Linked DNA regions of Homo sapiens. The main gene of each other region encodes a partner of the protein of the gene in region 3 in a complex. Each region holds a gene or a part of one and is shown on either strand. Other genes may lie near its edges. The genes, in order: MED25, MED20 and MED13L.

Region 1 (3,647 bases), on a different chromosome or scaffold from region 3:
GGGGTCTCTGCTGCCCGCTTTCATCGGCTAACAGGTGCCTGGAGCCCCAGGAGGTCAAAATGAGTGAATGTTAACAGCATCCGGCCATGACCAAGGGCTCCCTACACACGGCCTGTCACCCAGGCAAACTAGTTCCATGAGGGCCAGGACCTTGCCTATCTCATGCCCACTAACTCCTTGGTGCCCAGGACGATTTGTTCCACAAACATTTGTTGAATTAATGAGTGAACATATGAATGAACAACTGAGTTGTCATAATGTTATGGGAAACACACTGGGTCTATTTTCCTTCCACCTCTTTTTTTTTTTTTTTTTTCCCGAGACAGGGTCTCGCTCTTTCACCCAGGCTGGAGTGCGGTGGCACAATCTCGGCTCACTGCAACCTCTGCCTCCCAGTCTCAGTTGATCCTCCTACCTCAGCCTCCTGAGTAGCTGGGACTACAGGTGTGCACCACCATGCCTGGTTAATTTTTTCTATTTATTTGTTGTTTTTGTATTACATACTAATTCATTTATTCAGCCAGTCTCCTGAAGCCCCGTGGGTGCCAAGCCCCAGCTGGAAGCAAATGGCAGAAGCACCCAGGGACCTGGACATTCACAGTCCAGAGGTGTGGGGCTGTGACAGGTCATGGAGGCAGAGGAGGAAGCATCTGGCTGCAAGAATCGGGAAGGTTTCCCAGGGTATAAGACACCTGAGCTGGGTCTGGAAGGCTATGCAGTGTCTTCCAGGGTGGTTAGTATTAAATGCATTCTGGACATTCATTCTACAGAATTTACCCGAGGCCTCCTGTGTACCAGGCCCTGTGCTGGCTGCCAGGCACTTGAGGAGCATCAGACTTGGACCTGGGCCTCAAGAAGTCTCCATTTAACATCACTCAAGACTGTCTTACCGGTCTCTCCCAGTGGTCTCAAATGGAATACATTTTGCGCCCCCTTCCCAGAGGATATTTTATAATGCCTGGAGACATTTTTGGTTGTCACACCTTTGGGAGGGGGCTACCGGCATCTAGTGAGTAGAGGCCAAGGATGATGTTAAACATCCTACAATACCCAGGACGGCCCCCACTACAAGGAATGACTGTGTCCACAGTGTCACTAGGGCCAAGGATGAGAAACCCTGCTCTGTGTTACCTACGAATTCCAGCTACCGCGAAGGGGAAGCTTCTGTGTCACCTTTTCACTATATGTCCTGCACCCAGCACTTGCACGCACATACTGGAACAAAGCAGATACTCAACAAACACCTGCTGCAGAAGCATACAGAGGTAACGGCCGCTACGAACAGGTGTTGTTTAATGAACCTTGACTGCAGACCAGGCCCTAAGCGACACACAGCAAGCAACTTAGCTCCTGTGATCTTCTAACAACACGGAGATACACGCGACCATTATCCATTTGCAAACCAGGAGAGTGAGGCACAAAATCCTAGGAAACACTTACACGGCACTTAATACATGCCAGGCACTGTATTAAACATCATCAACTAACTTAATTCTCCAAACATCGCTGTGAGGTTGCGGTACCCAGCCCCCAATACAGCACCCAGCAATCCAGCCTCTTGCTATTTACACACTGGGTAGTCTCCTCCTACACTGAACGGGATAGGCTTATACTGCACACCAAATGCAGTATGGCAGAAGTGGACTTGGCACCGCAGCTCAGGCCTGTGATCTCAGCACTCCAGCACTTAGGGAGGTCAAGGCAGGAGGATCGCTTGAGGCCAGGAGTTCAAGACCAGTCTGAGCAACACAGCAAGACCTCATCTCTACAAGAATTAAAATAAAGAAATCAGCCATGCATGGTGGTGCCCACCTGCAGTCCTAGGTACTCAGGAGGCTGAGGTGGGAGGATCACTTGAGCCCGAGAGGTCGAGGCTGCAGCAAGCTATGATCCCACCACTGCACTCCAATCTGGGCAACAGAGCAAGACCCTGTCTCAGGTTAAAAAACAGAATGTAGGCCAGGCGCGGTGGCTCACGCCTGTAATCCCAGCACTTTGGGAGGCCGAGGCGGGTGGATCACAAGGTCAGGAGACCGAGACCATCCCGGCTAACACAGTGAAACCCTGTCTCTACTAAAAATACAAAAAATTAGCTGGGTGTGGTGGCGGGCACCTGTAGTCCCAGCTACTCAGGAGGCTGAGGCAGGAGAATGGCGTGAACTCGGGAGGCGGAGCTTGCAGTGAGCTGAGATCGCACCACTGCACTTCAGCCTGGACAACAGAGCGAGACTCTGTCTCAAAAAAAAAAAAAAAAAAAAAAAAAGAATGTAACAGAAATAATGACATGACGTGTAACTTCCAAGACTTGATTACAAAGAGCCTAGTGGGGCCTCTGGGTGCAGCATCTCATGCCTCTAATCCCAGCACTTAGGGACACTGAAGTGGAGGATCACTTGAGACCAGGAGTTCAAAACCAGCCTGGGCAACATTGCAGGACCTTGTCTCCACAAAAAAAACAATTTTTTTTTGAGACAGGGTCTCAGTCAGTCAGTCACCCAAGCTGGAGCGCAGTGGTGCGATCTCTCCACCTCCTGGCTTGAAGTGATTCTCCTGCCTCAGCCTCCTGAGTAGCTAGGATTACAAGGCACATGCCACCACACCTGATTAATTTTTGTATGGTTTTTTTTTTTTTTTTTTTTTTGAGACAGAGTCTTGCTCTGTTGCCCAGGCTGGAGTGCAGTGGTGCAATCTTGGCTCACTGCAAACTCCGCCTCCTGGGTTCACGCCATTCTCCTGCCTCAGCCTCCCGAGTAGCTGGGACTGCAGGTGCCTGCCACCGCGCCCGGTTAAATTTTTGTATTTTTAGTAGAGACGGGGTTTCACCGTGTTAGCCAGGATGGTCTCCATCTCCTGACCTCATCATCCACCCGCCTCAGCCTCCCAAAGTGCTGGGATTACAGGCGTGAGCCACCACGCCTGCCCAATTTTTGTATTTTTTGTAGAGACGGGGTTTCACCATGTTGGCCAGGCTGGTCTCGAACTCCTGACCTCAGGTGATTCGCCCGCCTTGGCCTCCCAAAGTGCTGGGATTACAGGGATGAGCCACCGTGCCCCGCCACTACAAAATTTTTTTTTTTTTTTTTTTTTGAGACAGAATTTCACTCTTGTTGCCCAGGCTGGAGTGCAATGGTGTGATCTCGGCTCACTGCAACCTCCACCTCCCAGGTTCAAGCAATTCTCCTGCCTCAGCCTCCCAAGAGCTGGGATTACAGGCATGCGCCACCATGCCCAGCTAAGGCCTGTAATTTCAGCACTCCAGCACTTAGGGAGGTCAAGGCAGGATGATTGCTTGTATTTTTAGTAGAGGCAGGGTTTCACCATGTTGGACAGGCTGGTCTCGAACTCCTGACCTCAGGTGATCCACCTGCCCCAGCCTCCCAAAGTGCTGGGATTACAGGCGTGAGCCACCACGCCCGACCTACAAAAATATTTTTAAGAAATCAGCCAGGTGTGCTGGCATTTGGCTACCGTCCCTGCTACTCCAGCTACTCGGGAAGCTGAGATGGGAGGATCGCTTGAGCTTGAGCCCAGGAGGTCGAGGCTGCAGTGAGCCGTGACTGAGCCACTGCACTCCAGCCTGCGTGACAGAGTGAGACCCTTCCTCAAAAACAAGAGAGGCCTGGGGCTTCCTCTTTGCTCTCTCTATT
Region 2 (4,314 bases), on a different chromosome or scaffold from region 3:
ATTTGAAGAGGTCAGAGGACTGAGGAGAAGAGGTTGCAATAAGAGTCAGCCAAGGATACTGAGAAGTGAGGTGGCAGTAAAACAGGAGTGTTGATGTCTTAGAACCCAAGTAAGGATACTGTGGCCAGAAGGCCACTATTCAATTGTGTCAAATATTGCTTTAGATGAGATCTGAGAAACGGATGAAGCACCTCAGAGGTCAACACTCCCTCCCTAGTGAGAAAACATCAGACGTCTTTCAATTCATCTCTCTCGCTCTTTGGCTGCTAAACAATGTGTTTTCTGCTCATAACACTTCCCATTCGTTTTTCAGTTCTCAGCTTAAAGGTCCTGCTGCAATCGGAGAAGCTTCTCAAGACCAATGCTATTGTTACCAGGGAAACGATACTTTATCATGGAAATATATTATTCTAAGAGTCTACTTAATTGCCTCTCTGCTGGGCTTGACTGTAAGGTCCTTAAGTTAGACGTGCCTGTGTTGTTTACTTCTGTACCCAAACATTCGATAGAATTCCGAGCATAGCGCAAAGCTCGTAGTGGGTATCCCATAAATATTTACAAAACCAATGGATACATGCTAGGAGCACTTAGTGGCGCGATCGATTACTGTTGGCCTAACTTCGGGGGTGTCTAGAAGGGAGTGCCTAAAACTAGGAGTGGACGCGGAGGGCTCTAGACAGGGTTCAGTCTCCTTTGCAAGTGTAATACGGACCCCTTTGTTGACTCGAAGCAATTCCCCTGCCAGACACTTTTTAGCTGCCCACCCCGCCCCACTACTGGCCACTGTCTTCCTCGGACCTCATCCCAGACACTCACCCAGCCGCGTGGTGCGTTCCCGCGGCGCCGCGGGCTTGTCCCCAGTCCCATGCTCGGCCTCGAGTTCCTCCTGTTGCTGCCGTGCTTGCTGCAAAATCCGTCGGCTCAGCCGGGGCCCCACATACTCTTCCTCCGCTTCTCCTGTCCCGCGACCCCGCCGCTTCTCCCGGACCCCCGCCCGCACCGCATTCCCAGCCAGGATCTGATCGGCCAGGGGCGCATGTTTTTCCTGACCCCCCACCCCACGGGCCGCCTTGAATTTGGGCATTTTTCTCGAAAAAGTTGCCGGGAAGGATCGCACGTGGGGACTGAAGAAAGGCCAGGATGCGCTTGCGCGGTGGACTCCCAGCGCCCAAGAGGCCGCCCGGCGATCACAGCGCCCCCTAGCATTCGGAGGCCAGAAGCGCCATCAGCGCCGCCCCTCCCACTAAAAGAGCTCCCGGGTTCCGGAGCTGGACTCCCGAATATATTCACTGCCTTTAACGTTAGCTTCTCTCAATAGTGCAGTCTTTGAGTGTCGCTCTCCTAGCTTCATGGATGTAGGCCTAGAGTGCTCAGCCAAACGGGAATGTCTGGATTTAGAAACCTCGGGGCGGGAATCCGCAGATGATGTCAGTGGAGGCGTCACCGAGGGGTGCCGAGACACGCCCCATTCCTTGGGGAAGGCGTGGACCCGGCGCTCTGTTTTTACGTATTTCCGGAGTCCCTTCTGAGACAGAAGGTTGTGTTGGGGAACTGAAGGAGTTTCTGTGGGCGGACAGGGAACCCTGCGTTTCTACTGTGTGATTCTGCCACCTTCCTGGCCCGACGCCATGGGAGTGACTTGGTAGGACTGCAGGGGGTTTTGTGGGGCGGGGCTTGGAGTTGTGAAAGGCCGGAAAGAGGACCTTGACCATGGTCCGCCGTCCTCTGGGAGCTGAGGGAGATGTCCTCGGGTTGTGTAGATGAGAGGATGCCGTCCGGGCTGCGGGTTCCCCGGGCTTGTTTCCTCAGAGATGCGCCCCTTCCTCTTGGAAGGCGGGAAAGCAAAGGTTTTTTTTTTGTTTTGTTTTGTTTTTTTTAAGACGGGGTCTCGCTCTGTCGCCAGACTGGAGTGCAGTGGAGCGATCTTGGCTCACTGCAACACTCCGCCTCTTGGGTTCAAGCGATTCTCCTGTAGTCCCGAGTAGCTGGGACTACAGGCGCCCGCCACCACGCCCGGTTACTTTTTGTATTTTTAGTAGAAATGGGGTTTCACCATATTGGCCACGCTGGTGTCGACAAAGCAAACTTTTTATCCCAGGAACCTATCAATGGTTGTATACCTCATTCTCTTCTGGATACATCTTCCTTCCCGTGAGGCCATAGTACTGCCTGCAGTGGGACCTCAGGGTTGGAAATAGGGTCTTTGGACTATGACCCACCTGCAGACAGGGTTGGAGGGAGTGGGCCATAAGCAATCAGGAGATAGTATTTTTTAAGATTTTCGCCTGCTCTTCCCTCAGCCATCAAATACAGTTAGACCCGCTTGTGTCTGTTTCTAATTTGCTCATTTTAAGATCTTGGGTCTAGAGGAAAAAAGGGTATTGATAATAAGGAGATCATGGTTCCAGGCACTTTATCTCTTTAGGACCCGTTTCCCACTATGTTTAATTCCATGGTTGGTCTAGTTTCAATGGAGTTTTTATCTTTCATATGTTTTAAGTCTCAGTTGAAAGAAGATGAGGTGGCAGGGAAAGGTATGGGTCCAGTGCTCGTGGAGGCGTTAGTTGTAAGGTGCCAGGTCCCAGAACATTTTTTTCTTATCTCAGTAGATGTGAGCATTTTTCCCGTGGGAGAAATCCGGAGGCCAGGATATTTGAAGCCAGTGGATATAGGCTTCTCATACAAAAGCATGTGTAGGGGAAATACTTTTCCTCCTGGTAGCCCAGGTTCTTGCAGGTTTCTCAGTGATTGCACTCTTGCTTCCTACGATTGACACGATCCTCCTGTGTTCCTTAATGGAAGCAAGATATGTGAGGAATGGAAATGGAAAGGATGCAGCGTAGAACCCTGGAACCCTTGCTCTTTCTTTTTTTTAAAGAAATAGAAATGGGGTCTTGCTGTTTTGTACATGCAGGTCTTGAATTCCTGAACTCAAGCGAGCCTCCTGCTTTGGTCTCCCAAAGTATTGGCATTATAGACATGAGCCACCGTGCCCAGCCACCCCTGCTCTTTAAATGGAGAAGGCAGCTCCAGGGAAAGGGCTCTCTGTTGGCCCCCTTATCAACGTTTTCAGAATCCTAGGACTTCTGTCACTTGTAGCGTCAGTTTAGGGATTCTTTTGTATTTCAAAATAAGGCACATTAGCAACATCGTTTATCAGTGTTTTTTTCTGATAGAGTAGTGACAATTTTTAGCAACAGAAGGACTCTACCTTAATAGATTCATTTAGTTGATCATAAAGCAATGTCATCTATGACTGTTTTCTTGATTTCTATATAGCTAAGTACTGCTTGTACTATTGTTTATTAATTTTTTAATCGATTTTCCTTAATGTTTTAACAGGCACTACATCCTTATACAGGCAGTCTAGTTAGTGGTTAAGAGCATGGACATCAAGCCAGGTTGCTGGGCTTTGAGTCTTGAGTGTACCACCCATTAACTGTGTGACCTAGTGCAAGTTATTTAACCTCTTTGTGCTGTACTTAAGTTTCCTCTTTTTTTTTTTTTTTTTTTTTTTTGAGGCAGAGTCTCACTCTGTTGCCCAGGCTGGAGTGCAGTGGCGTGATCTCGGCTCACTGCAAGCTCCGCCTCCCGGGTTCATGCCATTCTCCTGCCTCAGCCTCCCGAGTAGCTGGGACTACAGGCGCCCACCACCATGCCTGGCTAATTTTTTTGTATTTTTTTTTTTTTTTTGAGACGGAGTCTCGCTCTGTCGCCCAGGCCGGACTGCGGACTGCAGTGGCGCAATCTCGGCTCACTGCAAGCTCCGCTTCCCGGGTTCACGCCATTCTCCTGCCTCAGCCTCCCGAGTAGCTGGGACTACAGGCGCCCGCCACCGCGCCCGGCTAATTTTTTGTATTTTTAGTAGAGACGGGGTTTCACCTTGTTAGCCAGGATGGTCTCGATCTCCTGACCTCATGATCCACCCGCCTCGGCCTCCCAAAGTGCTGGGATTACAGGCGTGAGCCACCGCGCCCGGCCATTTTTTTGTATTTTTGGTAGAGACGGGGTTTCACCGTGTTAGCCAGGATGGTCTTGATCTCCTGACCTCGTGATCTGCCCGCCTTGGCCTCCCAAAGTGCTGGGATTACAGGCGTGAGCCACCGTGCCTGGCCAAGTTTCGTCTTTTTTTTTTTCTTTTTGAGATGGAGTTTCGCTCTTGTTGTCCAGGCTGGAGGGCAGTGGTGCGATCTTGGCTCACTGCAACCTCCGCCTCCTGGTTTCAAGTGATTCTCCTGCCTCAGCCTCCCATGTAGCTGGGATTACAGGCGCACACCACCATGCCTGGCTAAGTTTTGTATTTTTGGTAGAGAC
Region 3 (3,647 bases):
TGCCGTTTGTGCAGTGATACAGTATCTGATGAGTCAGTGAGAGCTGCAGTCCCTCATAGCTGCATGGGACAGGCGGTGTAATACATTGGATTCAGTTAGGCAGTGATAGGCATTTATAGTTGCCTTTGCTTCCTGTTCAGAGCAGGCACTTCATGGTGATGAAGAGAGGTCAGATCTTGGGGGTGGATAGTTAGAAGACAGTGTCTGGAACTCTTAAAGCACCTCACATTGAAAACACTTTTTATGCTTCCTGAGATAGATTATGTATTTTTGTTTGTTTATTCGAGATGGAGTCTCGCTCTGTCACCCAGGCTGGAGTGCAGAGGCGTGATCTCAGCTCACTGCAAACTCCGCCTCCTGGGTTCATGCCATTCTCCTGCCTCAGCCTCCCAAGTAGCTGGGACTACAGGCACCCGCCAGAATGCCCGGCTAATTTTTTGTATTTTTAGTAGAGACGGGATTTCACCGTGTTAGCCAGGATGATCTCGATCTGACCTCATGATCTGCCTGCCTCAGCCTCCCAGAGTGCTGAGATTACAGGCATGAGCCACCGATTATGTGTTTTTTTAAAAATGGACTAGAACATAAATGACATAGTTGAGAAGTGCATTCCAGAAGTGTGTATTAATCAAGCCACAGGCATTCTTCATCTACCTTGAGAAAATATACAGGCCTTTTCTAATGTTTTCTAACTCTTAAATGGTTAGGAAATGATAGGAAACTATATATTATAGATTAATGTATAATTATAGTTATGGATAAAAATAAAGAACCTGATCAACATAAATTTGGCTTCCAGGCCCCCTAGAGCAGGGGTCCCCAACCCCCGTCCATGCCTTGTTAGGAACCAGGCCCCACAGCATGCGGTAAGTAGCAAGTGAGCGAGCATTACAGCCTGTGCTCCGCCTCCTGTCAGGCAATGACATTAGATTCTCATAGGGGCACAAACCCTATTGTGAACCGCACATGCAAGGGATCTAGGTTGTGTACTCTTTATGAGACTCCTAATGATTTAAGGTGGAACAGTTTCATCCTGAAACCATCCCCCACCACGTGGAAAAATTGTCTTCCACGAAACTGGTCCCTGGTGCCAAAAAAGGTTGGAGACTGCTGCCCTAGAGGAACACTGTCCAATAGAAATACAATGTGAACCTCAAATCTAATTAAAATTTTTCTGTTAGCCACATTAAAATAGTAAAAAGAAACTGGTTAATTTTAGTAATATATTTTATTTAACTCAATATACTCAAAATGTTATTTCAACATGTAACAATATAAAAATATTCATGAAATATTTTACATACTTTTCTTTTTTTCGTTTTCTTTTTCTTTTTTTTTTGGAGACGGAGTCCTGCTCTGTCACCCAGGCTGGAGTGCAGTGGCATGATCTCACTGCAACCTCCGCCCACAGGTTCAAGCAATTCTCCTGCCTCAGCCTCCCAAGTAGCTGGGATTACAGGCATGCACCACCACGCCTGACTAATTTTTGTATTTTTAATAGAGATGGGGTTTCACCATGTTGGCCACCTGGTCTTGAACTCCTGACCTCAGGTGATCCACCCCCACCTCGGCCTCCCAAAGTTGCTGGGATTCCAGGCGTGAGCCACTGCACCTGGCCCCTAAGTGTTTGGGCTCCAGTGCCTACTTTACCTGCAGTCCACGCAAGTTCCTACTGGCCTCACTGGCGGAGCTCAATGGCCATGTGTGGCTGCTGGCTACTGTACTGGATAGTCCATATCTAGAAGGAAGGAGGAACATGAGACAAAGGATGAGGGAAAGAGCCTGGGGCAAGTTAAGGAATGCCTTTGAGACCTCCTTCCTGCTAAGATCTGGAATGTATTAGAATCTGAGAACCAGCCTTCCCTCTTGAGGCTCACGCCCCTGCTCTGTGTGTTCTCTTTGGCAGGTTTGTTTTGGAGCAGTACAACGCTCTGTCCTGGCTCACGTGCAATCCGGCCACCCAGGACCGTACTTCCTGCCTTCCCGTCCACTTTGTGGTGCTCACTCAGTTGTACAATGCCATCATGAATATACTTTAATTGGAAAAGCACTTGTTCTCTCTGGCTCAGTTCCTTCTCCCTGCAACCTCAGTCCAAGGAACCTGCTACACTCTGCAAATAACCCACATCCTTTTCTTCAGACCACTCTCCACAGTCCTGCACTGTGATTCCTTCTCAGCAGGCACATGTCAATTCTGCAGTGTTCATTACCAGAGTGACTCCTTGACACTTCTCTCATGGACCTGGAAACTTCCATAAGTGGTGACTTTCAGCCAGTGCGGTGGTGTGTGTAGCCCCAACCACTGGTCCCCAGGAAGTGGTGGTGGTTGATGGCTTTTCAGCGGGAAACAGAAGAGACAGTGTCCTTTTGCACAAGAGTCTGTGTTTTCAGCCTCTGTATACAATTGAGGGCAGTCTAGCCCTTTGGATGAAATCCTCTTAGTTACTGGTGTATGGCCTGTGGGTTACCTGAACTCCATAATCTGGGACTTTTTAAAAATAAGAACCAGCTCAAGTACATGGTTTCATACTGGGGTTTCTGTCTCCCTAGTGTTCCCATCCAGATTAGCATGAGTGCTTTGGTTGACTTCAAACCTGTGTGTCAATGCAGAAGGTCTGGAGACAGCTTCATTTTGTTTATTTATTTTAATTTGTTTTGTCATATGGTTTTTGTGACTTTATTTTTTTAATTCACAAGGACCAGGTACAGTAGCTGAAACCCAATTCAGATCCACCATAGGATTCTTTGACTACATACCTCTGTCCTAGAAGCCGGAAAAGGAGTAAAAACACATTGGGGAGATCATGCCTAAAAGTAATATATTCAAAACCACCCAGCAGTAGGTTTTGTTAACAACAAACTGGATTTTAAAAGTTCTGCCATGTTAAGTGGCCAGCATTTCATGAAGGATAACATTTTTATACAGAAGGCAGTCAAGCTCAACTCAGAGCCATGGAGGCAAGTACCTTAATTAGTTTTATATAGTCACAACGGAAATATATTTTCTAGTGAATTCTTATTGGAAGCCAGGTCTCTCCTCTCATTAGATCAAAAGGGACTTATGTACATACAACAATTGAAAGTGTTTGCTCATGAAATCAGTTATAAATATGGTGAATTTTTTCTGGACCATAGGAATATTATTTCAAAGAAATATTACAACTTAACCATTAAATTAGTACTTGAAGTTGAGCCTTTGTGGTGGGACTTTTTAAAAAAATGCCTTTTTAAAGCATTAATGGCTAATTGAAGTATTTTATGACTCCTCATTCCTGGCCCAGAGGGTTGTCTTTGAAACCCTGTTTCTAACCCTTGTGTTGTGTGTTTCTGTCTGAGGACAGTGGGTGTGTACTGGCCTCCCGGGAGCCACTGTGACCAGGCCTTTGAGCTCTTGTCATCTGTGGAGAGAATCATGCAAATTTTAAAAGTTCTTCCAAGAGACTTCCATGTCCTGGTTATTAACAAAAAAGGAAAAATGTAATAATTGATATGATTTTGTAAAAGTATTTTTCTTGAAATAATCTAAAGTTTAAAACATTATATTAAAAAAAAAGTTGTGTGGTGGGAATGTGAAAGCAGAGAAATAACTTGTAAATGGATAATTTTGTTCTCTGTACCACCAGTTGAAGGGGGGGTTGACTTTCGCA

The links.
Region 1: MED13L (region 3) and MED25 share a complex: the UniProt entries of both Homo sapiens proteins name them as parts of the mediator complex.
Region 2: MED13L (region 3) and MED20 share a complex: the UniProt entries of both Homo sapiens proteins name them as parts of the mediator complex.

The regions. Positions count from the first base shown.
Region 1 is NC_000019.10:49,821,257-49,824,903, reverse strand, and holds part of MED25 (mediator of RNA polymerase II transcription subunit 25), read right to left. Parts: intron 1-3,647. UniProt on the Homo sapiens protein: Component of the Mediator complex, a coactivator involved in the regulated transcription of nearly all RNA polymerase II-dependent genes.
Region 2 is NC_000006.12:41,918,333-41,922,646, reverse strand, and holds the start of MED20 (mediator of RNA polymerase II transcription subunit 20), read left to right. Parts: upstream 1-1,507; 5' UTR 1,508-1,628; coding exon 1,629-1,642; intron 1,643-1,703; exon of another isoform or gene 1,704-1,847; intron 1,848-4,314. Other genes in the region: BYSL (bystin), read right to left, coding at 817-1,084. UniProt on the Homo sapiens protein: Component of the Mediator complex, a coactivator involved in the regulated transcription of nearly all RNA polymerase II-dependent genes.
Region 3 is NC_000012.12:115,959,658-115,963,304, reverse strand, and holds part of MED13L (mediator of RNA polymerase II transcription subunit 13-like), read left to right. Parts: intron 1-1,906; coding exon 1,907-2,039; 3' UTR 2,040-3,647. UniProt on the Homo sapiens protein: Component of the Mediator complex, a coactivator involved in the regulated transcription of nearly all RNA polymerase II-dependent genes.